2 separate regions of the Homo sapiens genome follow, and region 1 is linked to region 2. Evidence: fine-mapped expression QTL. Tissue or cell type: whole blood. Region 2 holds a variant in brackets; the other region holds the start of a gene. All regions are shown on one strand. Distances are from middle to middle.

What was found. PIP is the estimated chance that this variant, and not a neighbour inherited with it, causes the effect.
Region 1: it holds the start of LCN10, and the variant in region 2 is fine-mapped to the expression of LCN10 in whole blood (TOPMed, PIP above 0.99).

Annotation. Positions count from the first base shown.
Region 1 is chr9:136,738,985-136,746,984 of GRCh38, reverse strand. It overlaps LCN10 (lipocalin 10), which reads left to right and starts at 4,045. Exons shown (of 6, transcript NM_001001712.3): 1 at 4,045-4,198; 2 at 4,965-5,104; 3 at 5,624-5,733; 4 at 6,042-6,149; 5 at 6,937-7,035; 6 at 7,432-8,000. The coding sequence starts at 4,082. The coding sequence ends at 7,460. LCN6 (lipocalin 6) reads left to right here. Exons shown (of 7, transcript NM_198946.3): 3 at 1,071-1,141; 4 at 1,705-1,815; 5 at 2,244-2,345; 6 at 2,621-2,646; 7 at 2,843-2,968. The coding sequence ends at 2,323. MIR6722 (microRNA 6722) reads left to right here and starts at 15; the gene lies at 15-92. It overlaps LOC100128593 (a long non-coding RNA gene), which reads right to left and starts at 824. Exons shown (of 3, transcript NR_033913.1): 1 at 784-824. RefSeq lists a silencer at 4,541-4,640.
Region 2 is chr9:136,761,520-136,769,519 of GRCh38, reverse strand. LCN15 (lipocalin 15) reads left to right here and starts at 5,002. Exons shown (of 7, transcript NM_203347.2): 1 at 5,002-5,127; 2 at 5,511-5,650; 3 at 5,737-5,807; 4 at 6,053-6,163; 5 at 7,231-7,332; 6 at 7,667-7,733. The coding sequence starts at 5,032. The coding sequence ends at 7,701. It overlaps LOC107987143 (a long non-coding RNA gene), which reads left to right. Exons shown (of 3, transcript XR_001746981.2): 2 at 1,371-1,759; 3 at 1,846-3,177. RefSeq lists enhancers at 3,247-3,296, 3,307-3,356, 5,632-6,279. The variant G/A (reference allele first, on the strand shown) is at 4,299.

The DNA of each region.
Region 1 (8,000 bases), 23 kb after region 2:
CAGACTGGCCTTGTGGCCTCAGGCAGGCGCACCCGACCACATGCATGGCTGGTGGCGGCGTGCAGGGGTCGGGTGGGCCAGGCTGTGGGGCGGCCGTGCTACACAGGGGACACCTACAGGGCAGCCGGGCTGTGGGGGTAGCCGTGCTGGGGCAGGAGTCGGTGCCCGCCTCCCTTCACAGAAGAGTGGCCTGCTGGGTGGCGTGGTGGGTGTCTACCCCCTGGCAGGCTGGCGACAGAGCCCAGGCCTGAACCACTGAGCCAGGTACGGGGCCCAGAGAGAAGAACCTGCCCTCCTCACCAGCGTGCCTTCCCCCTGCACCTGCGCCTGCAGGGTATGGGCAGGGGCCCCACTGCACCCCCCGGGCCAGGCCTGGCCTCAGGGCGAGCTGGGACCAAGGGGCTCCAGGCTGAGGTGGCAGCTCCCACGTGGCTTTCCTAGTTCTTCTTGCTGTTCCTCCCGCATGGACTCAGCCTCAGTTTCCTTCCTTGGCAAACACCATTGCACCTTTGCTGGGTTTTGCTCACTCTGGGGACTGACCACTTAGGGAGCGCCGGCCCCTTCCCCCGAGTCGCAGGCAAACCCCCACCCCGCCCCATCCTTCCCCTGAGTCGCAGGCGAACCCCCACCCCACCCCATCCTTCCCCTGAGTCACGGGCGAACCCCCACCCCGCCCCATCCTTCCCCTGAGTTGCGGGCGAACCCCCACCCCGCCCCATCCTTCCCCTGAGTCACGGGCGAACCCCCACCCCACCCCATCTTTCCCCCGAGTCGCGGGCGAACCTCCCGTCTGTCGAGTCTCCTGTTGTGTCCTCAGCAGCATTCAGCGTTCCTGGTGGAGATCTGGCACTGAGGATCTCTCAGGAAGTGAATGGGAGTGTCCGCCCCTCTCAGGACTCCCACGCCGTCCACTCTCCGAGAACAGGTTTCCGGGCATCGGGGCATCTGGCAGAAGATGGAAGCTCTGGCCTCACTGCTGGCTGGCCTGGCCTGGACTCCTGAGCTCCGTCTCCTCTCACCGGGCCCCGGGGTCTTGACCCTGAGTGGGTGACAGGCCCCTTCTTTTCCAGGCTGGGAGGGTGTGACCAGAGTGTCATGGACCTGATAAAGCGAAACTCCGGATGGGTGTTTGAGAATCCCTGTGAGTCTGACGGCCACGGCCTCACCCAGGCCGTTCTTCCCTGCAGCATCCCCAGGCCCCCTGCGGGCAGGGACGGAGGGCTGACTCCGCTCCCGAGAGCCAGGAGGCTACAGGTTCTGGTCTTGGGATTGCTGCCCATCCTGAGGGTGAAGAGAAGCCCCTGGACAGAGGATTGGAACCTTGTTCCCAGCAGGCTCAGACACCAGTGAGGTCCAGCCAAGGTCCCCATAGGTGCAGAGGGCGAGGGGCCTGTTTAGTGGCTGTCTACAGGTACAGGGCTGGGCTGGTGTGACCCAGCCGCTCCTCGTTCACACCTGGGACAGGCTGGGGCAGTGCTTGTCTGTCTGTCCGTCAGTGTCTGAAAGCCCCTTGATGCTGGCACCAGGTGGGGTCGGGGGTGGGGGACAAAGCTTGGGGGCTCTGGGTGTGCTTGGAGGGGTCTCCTGGGGAGGGGGGCTCTCACTTGAATTGGCCCCTCTGTCCCTGTGGCCAGCATCAGCTCAGCGGCCCCTGGATGGATACAGCAGCTGCCCTCCCCTGAGGCGGGGGGTTTTGTTTCCTAGCAATAGGCGTGCTGGAGCTCTGGGTGCTGGCCACCAACTTCAGAGACTATGCCATCATCTTCACTCAGCTGGAGTTCGGGGACGAGCCCTTCAACACCGTGGAGCTGTACAGTAAGTGTGCTGTGCGGGGCCCACGTAGGGAGCTGTGTGGTGCGTGGGCCACTCGGGGCCCACGTTGGGAGCTGTGTGGTGCGTGGGCCGCTTGGGGGCCGCGTGGGGAGCTGTGTGGTGAGTGGGCCGCTCGGGGGCCATGTGGGGAGCTGTGTGGTGAGTGGGCCGCTTGGGGCCACATGGGGAGCTGTGTGGTGAGTGGGCCGCTCGGGGGCCATGTGGGGAGCTGTGTGGTGGGTGGGCCGCACAGGACCACATGCAGGCCAAGTTCCCCCACCTTGAGGCTCGCTGCACTGGAGGTGGCTTTGGAAGGACCGGGGCCAGCATCCCAGGGCAGGTGGCCTCCTTCCTGACCCTTCCCAGCCCCTCCCCGGCCCCTCCCCAGCTCTCAGAGGTTGCTTCCCCCTGCACTGCCCTGGTGCCCCCAGGTCTGACGGAGACAGCCAGCCAGGAGGCCATGGGGCTCTTCACCAAGTGGAGCAGGAGCCTGGGCTTCCTGTCACAGTAGCAGGCCCAGCTGCAGAAGGACCGTGAGTGTCCACCGGAGCAGCCTCGGGGGAGGCTTGGGGCAAGTTCTGGAGCCCACAGGGCGTGATGGGGTGACAGAGACCCTGGGGTTGATTCTGGCTTCTGCCTGACTCAGTCGCCCTGAAGGAGTCAGGCAGGCTGAGGGGGTCTTCACCTGCCCCTGCCCAAAGTCAGGCCTGGGGGTCTTGTCCCCACGGCAGGCGAGTCTTGTGGGTGGGGCCCTGGGGTGCTGGGGGGCTCAGTCCTTTTTCACAGCCAGTCTTGCCTCCCCTTCTAGTCACCTGTGCTCACAAGATCCTTCTGGTAAGCCGCCATCCTGAGCCTCACCCTGGGCTCTCTTGGGGGAAGGGGGTGGGGGAGGCCACCCTACGCACAGTGGGTGGGAGGACCCTCTGCCCAAGCCCACGGGGTTCATGGCTCCACTGTCTCTAAGGCAGCTGAGGGTGTGGAGGAGCCTCCATGGTGGGCTGGGCCCCCTCACACTCCTCTTGGTTTTCAGTGAGTGCTGCGTCCCCAGTAGGGATGGCGCCCACAGGGTCCTGTGACCTCGGCCAGTGTCCACCCACCTCGCTCAGCGGCTCCCGGGGCCCAGCACCAGCTCAGAATAAAGCGATTCCACAGCAAACCAAGGATGCTTTTGACTGGGGGCCAGCCGGGGAATTGCGGGGAGGATGGCGGGGGTCGTCACCAAGGGCCAAGCCACAGAACCATAGAGCCAGCTGCAAAGAAGACGCGTGCCCAACCCAGTCCCTTGCCAGAGCCCCTCTGGGTCTTCAGACACCCAAACTCAGGCCCGGGCTCAGAGGCGGGGGCTGGTCAGAGGACACAGCCTGGGAGGAAGCCAGCAGTGAGCTCCACCAGGACCGCAGCTGGGGTGCCAGAGGCTCCAAGGACTGCCCAGGACAAGAGAGAGGTGGCTGGTGGGGCTCAGAGCAGCCCCTGACTCCCCAGGCTCAGGCTTCTCTGGGCTGGGGTTGTGTCTCTTGCCTGGGCAGGGGCAGGGACCCCAGACACCTGAGCCTGCAGGTCCTCCTGTGTTCTGATGGGTGTGGGGGGCTGCGCTGCCTGCCGTCCTGGGAGAAGCACAGGCCATGGGGGTCTCGGGGCTGGATGGGGGGCTGGGGACTGTGTGAGGCTCATGCTGGAGTGAGGCGAGGTGCACACAGATGCCTTGACCTGCAAGGCTGGGCATGCACACGCATGCACATGTGAGCACACACCCACACATGCACACACACACATTCATGGGCACGGGCACACAGCCCCGGCCCGCCCTTCGGCACCTGCTCAGGTGCTTGGTGCCAGGCCCTCAAGAAGGTGGTGGGGGCTGTGTGTGTGGCTGCCGCGCAGAGCTCACCATGTCCACATCTGCCCCAGAAGGGCCACGACCAGCCCTTTGCCTGTCACCTGGGAGGTCTAGGATGAGGGCCAGGGCTTAATGAGTCTCAGGGGCACACACAGTGACCCCAGGCCGGGCACTGAGGGCAGGAGGGTCCTGGGGCCTCAGAGGGGCCTCTGTCTGCCAGGGCAGCCCAGGCCAGCAGTGACCACCAGGTGGGGCAGTGCCGGCTTCCCTGGAGTGTCTGGGGGTGGTCCCTGGGCGGGGAGAGGGTAGCAGAGCCCAAGGCCACACCTGTTGCCTCCCTCCGCTCCCTCCCCTCCCTCCTCTCCCGACACAGGCTGGCGGCTCCAGAGAGGTTTAAACACTGGCCTTGGCGGCTGAGGGAGGAGGGTGAAGATGAGGCAGGGGCTGCTGGTGCTGGCGCTGGTGCTGGTGCTGGTGCTAGTGCTGGCTGCAGGGTCCCAGGTGCAGGAGTGGTACCCCAGGGAGTCCCACGCCCTCAACTGGAACAAGGTGAGCCATGTGCCACTGGTCCCTGAGCCGGGCGCCGGCTCTGGAGCTGGAGCAGGCTCCTGCACAGTCTCCCGGCAGCCGCCCAGGAGCAGGGCTACCAGCAGTTCCAGGCACGGGCGCTGCCCACCTGGCCTCTCCCACTGCAGCCTCCAGCACAGGGGCCCCGCAAGTTGCAGGGCAAAGGCAGGGAGCCTCGAGGGGGTTCGGGGGCCCAGGGGGGTCAGGGAGGGCCAGGGTGGAGGGGCCCAGAGAGCTGTGGCCGAGGAGGTCGGGAGACGCCCAGAGTGCAGAGTGGGTGTGGAGCAAGCGGGGCATATTCTGTAGCGGGAGGGCCCGGGCACCTGCTGAGTGAGCCGTGGGAGCAGCACTCATTGGCACGGCGGTGCCCAGGGCGCTAGGGTTGGCAGCAGGCAGAGTTGGGGGCCGGGGGCCGGCAGGAAGGGAAGTGGCCGAGCAGTACCCAGCCCCCAGGAGGCCATGTGGGAAGGAGCCGGGGCCTCTGAGGTAGGGGGCCTCCCACCTGCTGGCGCCCACAGCCCAGCCCTTTGCTGCCTGGGGTCCCTGACCAGCCGGGCACCTGCTTCTCTGCAGCCCTGCTCCAGTGGCCAGGGCTTGAGTGGCCGGGACCGAGGCGGCACCTGGGCGGAGCTGGGACTCCGGCTCACAGAAGGGTCATTTGTCTCCTGGGTTCTCTAGCTGGGAACCTCGGGGGTGGGGACAGCCCCCGGTGGCAGCTCCTGTCCCCGCCCACACATCCGCTGCGCAGTTTTCAGGGTTCTGGTACATTCTGGCCACTGCCACTGATGCCCAGGGATTCTTGCCGGCCAGGGACAAGAGGAAGCTGGGGGCGTCCGTGGTAAAGGTGAACAAAGTGGGCCAGCTCCGCGTGCTCCTCGCCTTCAGACGGTGAGTGGGCAGCGCCCCCCAGGCAAGGGTCTCCCCTTCCAGGAGGAGGGAGCTGCCTCGGGGCTGGAAAGGAGTCTGGGAGGAGCCTGTCTGTCTGGAAGTTCCACAAGAACCGTCCCCCCACTTCCTCCCCCTAAACTCAGAGGAAGCCACCTGCAGCCCCTGGGACCCCACATGGGTGGGTGTTGGGAGGAAGCTGCCTGCAGACCTTGGGACCCCACATGGGTAGGTGTTGGGAGGAAGCCGCTTGCAGCTCCTGGGCCCCACACGGGTGGGTGTTGGGAGTTTCTCTCGTGCCGTGGGACAGGCCCCAGTCCGAATTGGAAAATCCTCAAACCACAGAGCCTCAGATTGACACGAGTTGGATAGTGAAGCAAAAAACTGGGGACCTGGGGCCCCAACCTTCCCGGGTCCCACGGGAGCAGGGGCGGGACCGAGACGTGTGGGTGGGGCTCGGTGGCTGGCAGGCGGGAGGAGGGGTTCCCTGGTCTGCAGCCTGAGCCCCCGCCTTGGCCCCAGGTTGAAGGGGTGCCAGTCCCAGGAGGTGATCCTGAGGAAAGACGGGAAGAAGCCGGTGTTTGGGAACGCCTGTGCATACGCGGCGGGCCCGAGGGAAGGACAGGAGGGAGGTGTGCTTGGGCTCTGGGCCCTGGAGGAGCTGCGTGATATGCCTCTGACCCCCCTGTGCCTTGAGCAGGCCCCTTGTCCCCGAGAGCACGTGGCAGGCAGGCGTCAGGCTGGCTGTGTTCCCAGAGCCCACACGTCATGTGCTGGGCGGCCTGGCCCGGGAGGGGAGGCCCCGGGAGGGCACTCAGTCCCTCTGGACACCTGCACCTGGGTGGGGGCTCTGAGGCCTCGGGCACCAGGGGTCAGGGCTGTGGGCGGGCACAGCCACGCCATCCGGGAACCAGCGGGCATCTCTGGGCATCTCTTTCAGTGAAAGGGGTGAAGGCCTTCCACGTGCTGTCCACTGACTACAGCTACGGCTTGGTCTACCTCCGCCTGGGGCGTGCAACCCAAAACTACAAGAACCTGCTGCTCTTCCGTGAGCAGGCACAGCGGATGGCAGAGGATGGTGGAGGGGGTGCAGAGGGAGGCATAGAGGGGCGCTGGGCACAGGGGGCCGGGCAGGAGGTGAGGCGGGCAGGGAGAGTGGGGGTTGGGGCGGTGGTCAGGGCAGGGGCAATGGAAGCCGAGACCACAGCAGTCAGGTCCTGGAGGTCGCTGAAGCAAGGATAGGGGACGTCAGGAAGAGGCTGCAGAGAAAGGTGGGCCATCCAGGGGGAGCGGAGGCCACCAGGATGGTGGCGGGTGCAGGTGCAACGTTCTGGGTGAGGGACACAGTGGGGATGAGGAGGCGTGGGAGGGGTCCCAGGTAAGGGTCTGCCCGGGATGGAGGGGTGTGGAAGTGACCCAGTGTGGGTTAAGGGCCACAAACCCAATTCTAGACACCAACCACTTGGGGTACACGGAAAGGAGTGGCCCTCCCGGTTGGAACGGGTAGAGGGGAGGTGGGGTCCTGGGGTCTCAGTCGAGGCAGGGCACGCTCAGGGTGCAGCAAGCTGGGGCACAGCTGAGGGGCTGGCTGGAGGGGACTCTGCAGGCAGAGAGGGTTCCCCAGGTGACAGCGTGGTGACCCTGGCTTCCCGAGCCTGGCTGCCTCGTAAGTGGGGAGGGGCCCAGCGGCCGCTGTCCTCCCCTGGCCAACCCCTGCTTCACGCCTAAGCTCTGAGGACATTTCAGCAGCTCCTGGGGTAGGGATGGGGGTCAGGGTGCAGACCCTAAAATGGCCAGAGCTGGAGTCTCTGATGTGATCCTGATCTCAACCTCAGATAGGCAGAATGTTTCGAGCTTCCAGAGTCTGAAGGAATTCATGGACGCTTGTGACATTCTGGGGCTCTCCAAGGCCGCCGTCATCCTCCCGAAAGACGGTAAGCTGTGCCCTCAGCCCTTTGCCCTCCTGGCCCTACCTGCCCGTCCCATTGGGGAGCTGATTCATTGGGGGAAGGAGAGATGAAAGGATCCATTTGAAAGGTGCCATTTGAAAGATCCGCCCAAACGTGCCTCCCACCTCCTGCCGCCCCTGAGAATCGGGGCTTGGCCTGGCAGGCCTGGCACCGACAGCGAGAGGCGTCCGGAGCAGATGCTGCATCCGACCAGGCGATGCCGTGGCTGTGGCTGCAGGATCGGGGGCTGCATGGCTGTGTTCTCGTGGTGCCCAAGACGAGCACGCATGGAACCAGGGAGCGGCCGGGGGAGACGTGTTCACGGCTCATGTGTCTCCTCCAAGCAGCCAGCCCACATGTGGCTGTTTTCCTCTCCCACAGCGTCCCGTACACACACCATCCTGCCATGAGAGCCAGCGTCCTCTGCTCTTCCCTTTCGACGCGTGGTCCTCCCAGACCCGAGGAGCGTTGTTCCAGATGTCAAGTGGAGACCACGGCTTGTTGAGAGGTGTTTGGTGACTCTAGGTCATTGACAGTGTGAAAATCAAGTGGCTCAAGGGATCCTTTATGATCACAGAAAGATGGGGGAAGGAGGATACAGGCTGACCGGGTGGCGAGATGTCAGCCAGGCCCCTTCCCCACTGTCTTCTGGAGCACACTGCAGGCTGCTGCTATTCCCTGTCTGCTGTGAAACAGACCACAGGCCGGCCCAACGCAGTCCTCGCCGTGTGCCTTGCCTCTGCCCTCCACGCCGCCGCCACCCTCCGCGTTCCTTTACATCCTGCACTTTCTCAGGAAGCCGTTCGCATATCCACCCAACATGGAGGAGCCCCCATGACGTGCCAGGCAGCGTGCTGGCCCCTGCGGCTGCGTTAGGGAACAGAATCGGCAAACGCAGTCCCAGAGTTGATGCCTGATCAGGAGAAGCCAACTTCAGCAGTGTGGTCACC
Region 2 (8,000 bases):
GTGGCGGGGTGGCGGGGGGGCAGTGCATGGGGGGTGTCGGGGTGTCGGGGGGGGCAGTGCATGGGGGGTGGCGGGGTGGCGGGGGGGAAGTGCATGGGGGGGTGGCGGGGTGGCGGGGGGGGCAGTGCATGGGGTGGTGGCGGGGGGCAGTGCATGGAGGGGTGGCGGGGTGGCGGGGGGGCAGTGCATGGGGGGGTGGCGGGGGGCAGTGCATGGAGGGGTGGCGGGGTGGCGGGGGGGCAGTGCATGGAGGGGTGGCGGGGTGGCGGGGGGGGCAGTGCATGGGGGGGTGGCGGGGGGGGCAGTGCATGGGGGGGTGGCAGGGTGGCGGGGGGGGGCCGTGCATGGGGGTTGGGGTGGGAGGGGACTGAGCTCTGAGAAAGGACCCCAGTTCACTATGTCAAAAACGAAAAAAAGGCAAGGCGCAGTGGCTCACGCCTGTAATCCCGGCACTTTGGGAGGCCAAGGAGGGCAGATCACCTGAGGTCAGGAGTTTGAGACCAGCCTGACCAATATGGTGAAATCCTGTCTCTACTAAAAATGCAAAAAAAATTAGACGGGCATGGTGGCTACTGTTATCCCAGCTACATGGGAGGCTGAGGCAGGAGAATCGCTTGAACCCGGGAGGTGGAGATTGCAGTGAGCTGAGATTGCACCACTGCACTCCAGCCTGAGTGACAGAGTGAGACCCCGTCTTAAAAAACAAAACAAGGCCAGGCACGGTGGCTCATGCCTGTAATCCCAGCACTCTGGGAGGCTGAGGCAGGTGGATCACAAGGTCAGGAGATCGAGACCACCCTGGCTAACATGGTGAAACCCTGTCTCTACTAAAAATACAAAGAATTATCCGAGCATGGTGGTGGACGCCTGTGGTCCCAGCTACTCCGGAGGCTGAGGTGGGAGAATGGCGTGAACCCAGGAGGTGGAGCTTGCAGTGAGCCGAGATTGCGCCACTGCAGTCCGCAGTCCCGCCTGGGGCGACAGAGCGAGACTCCGTCTCAAAAAAAAAAAAAAAAAAAAAAAAAAAAAAGAAAAAAAAGAAAAAAGAAAAAAAGAAAAGAAAACGAAGAAAAACCACAAATAAATAAAAGTTGAGGTATGATGTATGCACAGCTGCATTCGCCCCTTTGAGGGCACAGTTGTGTGAGTTTAGACAAATGCAAATGTTCATGGAACCACTGCAAGTGCGACACAGCAGCTCTGGTGCCCACAAAGCTTCCTCGAGGTCCCTTGCGGTCAATCACTGCCCGCACCTCAGCCCTCAGAGCCACTGGGAAGCCCCCTGCCCTGTGGGCTCACCTGTCCTAGAACGTCGTATAAAAGGAGTCGCAGATCGCAGCCTTTTCCACCTGGCTTCTGTCCCTCTGCAGGGTGCACCTGGGATTCAGCCACCTTCGTTCCTTTTACTGCTGAGTGTCCATCACGTGCTGCTCATGCAGAAGTGCTCAAGTTCGCTGTAAACGTAGTTTTCATTTCTCCCGGGTGGAGACCTCCATAAGTAGGTAGGTTGGTGGAATGTTTCACTGCATGAGAGTCTGCCAGGAAGTTTTGCAGTGTGGTCCCGTCTTGTTCTTCCCGCAGAGGGTGATAGCTCTGCTGACTCCCAGCCCTCACAGGCTCTAGGGATTGAGCCTGTTTCTGTGGAACGCCTTCCATGGTCTGCGAGGTGCACAGAGGGGTCTCAAAAAGCTTCCAGGTTGCATCTTCCCATGGACTGATGCTGAGCGTGTTCTCATCTCCCATCCGGATGTTTTCTTTGGTGGAGTATCTTTTCAGATCTCTTGCCTTTTTATTTTTATTTGTTTATATATATATTTTGAGACGGAATTTTGCTCTTTCACTTAGGTTGGAGTGCAACGGCGCGATCTTGGCTCACTGCAACCTCCCCCCACCCACCTCACTTTGGGTTCAAGCGATTCTCCTGCCTCAGCCTCCCGAGTAGCTGGGACTACAGGCGCCCGCCACCATGCCCGGCTAATTTTTGTATTTTGAGAAGAGATAGGGTTTCACCATGTTGGCCAGGCTGGTCTCGAACTCCTGACCTCAGGTGATCCACCCGCCTCGGCCTCCCAAAATGCGAGGATCACAGGCGTGAGATGCCACACCTGGCCTCTTTTTATTTTTAATGGAGTGGCTTGTTTTCTTATTACTCAGTCTTGGGAGTTCCTCATGGATGCTGGATTTCAGTCTCGTCTCAGGTGTATGCGTTTTGTAGATGTTTTCTGTAGGGACCAGCCCCACAGGGTTGGTGAGTTTCTCCCTGTGTGCTGAGATGAGAGGGCATAGAAATAAGGACACAAGAAAAAGACATAAAAGAAAAGACAGCTGGGCCTGGGGACCACTACCACCAAGACGTGGAGACCGGTAGTGGCCCCGAATGTCTGGCTGTGCTGATATTTATTGGATACAAAGCAAAAGGGACAGGGTAAAGAGTGTGAGTCATCTCCAATGATAGGTAAGGTGACGTGAGTCACGTGTCCACCGGATGGGGGGCCCTTCCCTGTTTGGCAGCCAAGGCGGAGAGAGAGAGAGAGAGACAGCTTACATCATTATTTCTGCATATCAGAGACTTTTAGTACTTTCACTAATTGACTACTGCTATCTAGAAGGCAGAGCCAGGTGTACAGGATGGAACATGAAGGCGGACTACGAGCGTGACCACTGAAGCACAGCATCACAGGGAGACGGTTAGGCCTCTGGATAACTGCGGGCAGGTCTGACTGATGTCAGGCCCTCCACAGGAGGTGGAGGAGTAGAGTCCTCTCTAAGCTCCCCCGGGGAAAGGGAGACTCCCTTTCCCTGTCTGCTAAGTAGCAGGTGTTTTCCCTTGACACTGACGCTACTGCTAGATCACGGTCCGCTTGGCAACAGGTGTCTTCCCAGACGCTGGCGTCACCACTAGACCAAGGAGCCCTCTGGTGGCCCTGTCAGGGCGTAACAGAAGGCTCGCACTCTTGTCTTCTGGTCACTTCTCACTATGTCCGCTCAGCTCCTATCTCTGTATGGCCTGGTTTTTCCTAGGTTATAATTGTAGAGCAAGGATTATTATAATATTGGAATAAAGAGTAATTGCTACAAGCTAATGATTAATAATATTCATATATAATCATGTCTATGATCTAGATCTAGTATAACTCTTGTTATTTTATATATTTTATTAAACTGGAACAGCTCGTGCCCTCGGTCTCTTGCTTCGGCATCTGGGTGGCTTGCTGACCACAGTTTTCCTGCTGTATCTAACTGCTGGCTTAGGTGAACCTGTCAGGGGCGTGGCTGGGAACTGGAACCTCCTGAAGACCAGTGGAGGCCACAAGCAGAAGCCCTCGGCTCCTTCCCTTCCCCGATGCTGGGGGCCAAGGGTCTTTCTCTGACCCTGTCCCCCTCTCACGTTACCAGTGGAGGGTGTCCAGGTTCTTGGCATTTTGAACAAAGAATTGGACAAAACACACAAACAAAGCAAGGAAAGAATGAAGCAACAAAAGCAGAAATTTATTGAAAATGAAAGCACTCTTTACAGGGTGGGAGCGGGCTGAGCAAGCAGCTCAAGGGCCCCGGTTACAGAATTTTCTAGTGTTTCAATATCCTCTAGCGGTTTACCATTGGTTACTTGGTGTATGCCCTATGTAAATGAAGAGGATGAAGTCAAAGTCATTTTCTCGGCTGAGCATACTGTCACGCCTGTAATCCCAGTACTTTGGGAGGCTGAGGTGGGTGTATCACCTGAGGTCGGGAGTTCAAGACCAGCCTGATGAACATGGAGAAACCCCGTCTCTACTAAAAATACAAAATTAGCTGGGTGTGGTGGCGGGTGCCTGTAATCCCAGATAGTCAGGAGGCTGAGGCAGGAAAATCGCTTAAACCCGGGAGGCAGAGGCTGCAGAGAGCCAAGGAGTGCACCACTGCACTCCAGCCTGGGCAACAAGAGCAAAACTCCATCTCAAAAAACAAACAAACAAAACGAAGTCATGTACTCGGTATGAGCCCTACGTAAACGGAGAGGATGGAGTGAAGGTACAAAGCCATTCACATTCCCGTCATCGTTAGTGTTTCCAGTTGATTTGGTTCTAGGACGCCCTTGGGCTCCCTGCGTCCAGGCCCTCTTCTCCTGCCTCACTCTCACTCCAGAGGACTGGCAGTGCTGGCCTCCCTGGCAGGACTCCCGCCCCTGACCAGAGGGGTCTGGGCGTGCTCCGAGGCCACCTGCTGCTCCTTGCCCAGTGTCCCTGGGTGCTCTGTGGGGACACAGAGAGGTCACTTGGGAGGTTCCTGCCTCTGCCAGACTGCGGCGCCTTCCTGGC[G/A]TCATTGCCCCCTGCACGCTTATACAACCAGTGATAAGGCGGTATCCAATGCCGTAATCCTCCCCAGGGCCAGCCCAGCCCTGTCCGGTCCCGTCCGGTCCCTGGCCTGCTTGCTGGAAGCCCAGCTGGGGGCTGCATCGGGGGTGGTGGGGGTCTGGAGTGAGGGGTGCCCAGGCCTCTCTCACAGTGTGGGGGCACAAGCTCTGCCCTGGACACTCTGCCAGTGTGACCCTACCCCCCATGTTGGGGGTGAGAGAAGGGGGCTTTCTGGGTGGCCAGATCCCAGGAGAGGGGGCCTAGCCAGACCAACCCCAGCCCAGCTCTCTGCAGCTGTACCCCAAAGGCCCTGGCCCAGCCCAGCCAGACAGAGTGTGGACAGAGGGGCTTGGGTGCGAGTCCAGGCAAGGCAGGACAAGTCTCTGCTGTGGCTTGGCAGTGGCCCCGTGACTGGTGACATAGTCTGGCAGGCCTAGGGGACAAATCCTCAGCCCGGGTGCATCAGGCCAGAGCCTGGCTGTCTGGAGCCCTCCAGGAAATGACCCCCTGGGCTGGGGGACATCCGAGTGATTGTGCCAAACAATGGACAAGGGGGCCGGAGTCTCAGAGCCGAAGTGCCTTCCGCTTCCATCTGCTCCGCCCAGGAGCAGGTGCACCCAGGTGGTGGCCTGGGCTATAAAGCTGGCCCCCTGGGGCTTGGGGACTCAGCACCAGGGGCTGGAGGGCAGGGGAGGGGATGATGTCATTCCTGCTCGGCGCAATCCTGACCCTGCTCTGGGCGCCCACGGCTCAGGCTGAGGTTCTGCTGCAGCCTGACTTCAATGCTGAAAAGGTACCAGGGGCCTCTGCTGTCCTGTGGTGGGTGGGAGCTGGGCCCCTGCCAGAGACAACGTGATAATTGTGACAACTGCCTTTCCTGGGGCGCTTGCTCTGTGCCCGGCCAGGCACGTGCTATAGACCCACTCTGCGCTTAATCCTAAACCAACCTGTGAATGGATCATTACTGCACCCACTTCACAGCTGGGAACTGAGGCTCACAGTTGCACTGTGACCTACCCAAGATGAGTTCCTGTCCACCTGGGCTCAGCTCACACCCAAGACATGGCCACTCCGAGACCCCTTGCTGTGTGACTTCTGAGTTGTCCCCTGGGTCCCTGGGCAAGGAGGGCCCTGCTGCTGGCTGTCCTGGCCTGCGGGTGACTAAGCCCCCGGCAGTTCTCAGGCCTCTGGTACGTGGTCTCCATGGCATCTGACTGCAGGGTCTTCCTGGGCAAGAAGGACCACCTGTCCATGTCCACCAGGGCCATCAGGCCCACAGAGGAGGGCGGCCTCCACGTCCACATGGAGTTCCCGGGGTGAGTTACTTGGGCTGGGCTGCCTGGGCTGGGCTGGGGAGCTGAGGTAGCTGGGTGCCATGAGTGAGCCGGCTGTGCACCCCCAGGGCGGACGGCTGTAACCAGGTGGATGCCGAGTACCTGAAGGTGGGCTCCGAGGGACACTTCAGAGTCCCGGGTAGGTCCTGCCTCCTCTGCCTTCAGGGGTGCTGGATGCCGCTTCTCTGGGGGTGACGTGGGGCTGACTTTCCACCCGGGCCCAAGCTGTCCATCCCAGTCTCCAGCCCCCTGCCCGCCCTCCCCGCCCCTCCTCTGTCTTCGGGGAACAGGCTCACAGCCCAGCAGCAGGGGCAGGCATGGGTGGGGTCGGTGCCCGGGCCCATCCACTTCTCCAGCCTGAAAAGGCCGCCTGCCTCTCCGCAGCCTTGGGCTACCTGGACGTGCGCATCGTGGACACAGACTACAGCTCCTTCGCCGTCCTTTACATCTACAAGGAGCTGGAGGGGGCCCTCAGCACCATGGTGCAGCTCTACAGTGAGTGCCTGTCCCACCTCCCCGCACTGGCCCCTCCCCAACTTCCCACAGGCCCCGCCCCCCGTTCTGCCTACCCCCGCCCCGCCCGCCTGCCGCCCCGCGCCTCCTCACAGGCCCCGCCCTCACCCCTCCGCCCCCCGCCTTTTAGGCCGAGTTTAGGCTCCGCCTCCTCATCCCCGGGCCCGCCCCTTCTGGTGCTGCCCCATGCCCTCTCCTGCTGTGACCCTTCGCACACACTCCTGGCCTGGCCAGGACCGGGTGGGGTGGGAGCTGGGCCCGCCGTGCTTTGGATGTGGAGGAGGTTGGCTTGGGGGAGGGTCCCGCGGTGCATGCTCCTCTCTGGCCTCCTGAGAGTGGTGCCCCGCCCTTCCCTGCCTGGCCTCGCTGCCTGAGTTCTGGGGCTGGGGCTGAGGTTCTTTTTTTTTTTTTTTTTTAATATGGAGTCTCACTCTGTCGCCCAGGCTGGAGTGCAGTGGCGCGATCTCGGCTCACTGCAACCTCCGACTCCCCAGTTCAAGCAATTCTCCTGCCTCAGCCCCCCGATAAGCTGGGACTACAGGCGCCCATCACCATGCCCGTATTTGTATTTGTAAAAATATAAATAATTTTTTGTATTTTTAGTAGAGACGGGGTTTCACCGTGTTAGCCAGGATGGTCTCGATCTCCTGACCTCGTGATCCGTCCGCCTCGGCCTCCCAAAGTGCTGGGATTCCAGGCGTGAGCCACCGCGCCGGCTGGGGCTCAGGTTCTTTAACTCCTGGGGACTCCCCGATTGGAGCCGACAGAGTGAGGCTGGAGGCTTCCGGGCTGCAGGGAAAGAGGCTCAAGGGGTAGTGGGGCCCAGGAGGACAGCCAGACCACCCCAACCTCCCAGACATCTTGGTGTGAATTGGGGAAGGGGGCCCCAAGTTTCCTTCAGCCAGGCAGGAGCTTTATGCCGCGCACAACCTGCCCAACCCAGGGTGGCGGCCTTGCTGTCAGCCCTCAGGCTGGTGGAGTGAGGCCAGGAGACCCCGTGCTGCACTCCTGTGAGCTGCTGAGTTCACAGTGACCTCTGCTCTGCCCAGGCCGGACCCAGGATGTGAGTCCCCAGGCTCTGAAGTCCTTCCAGGACTTCTACCCGACCCTGGGGCTCCCCAAGGACATGATGGTCATGCTGCCCCAGTCAGGTACCCTGGCAAGCCCCGCCCACCCCATGCCCCCCAGCCTCTCCCTCCCTTCCCATGAGCCCACCCTTCCTTCCCCTCACAGCACAGGCAGTGTGCGGGCAGCAGGTGGTCTTCTCTTCCAGGGGTGGGCTGGCAGCCCCTGCAGCCCCTACCCCACCTCCCCCAGAACAGACTACGGGAGAGGCTTTGGGCAGCGCTGGGAGGGAAGCTCTGGGCTCCACTCTCTGGGGATGGTGGAGCTGTCCAGTGGCCCTTGGCACCCAGGGGTTGGGGGCTGCGGGAAGCGAGGGCGGTCCTGGCCGTCAGCATCTCACGGATGTCTTCCTCCCCACAGATGCATGCAACCCTGAGAGCAAGGAGGCGCCCTGACACCTCCGGAGCCCCACCCCCGCCCTTCCCAGGTGGGTTCTCCAGGCCCTGCAGGGGATGCCCTGGTTGCCTCTCCCCTCCCTATCGCAGCTTGACATCTGGTTCTGTCTGCCCCATGCCTGCCCCGCTGTTCTGCCTGGCGACCCCATGCTTCAGGCCTCAGCTTAGACATTACCTCTTCCAGGAAGCCTCCCTTGATTTCCTAAGGTACCCATCACAGAGTACCACAAATGGGGCGACTTAAAACAGCAGAAGTTTGGCCGGGTGCAGTGGCTCATGCCTATCATCCCAGCACTTTG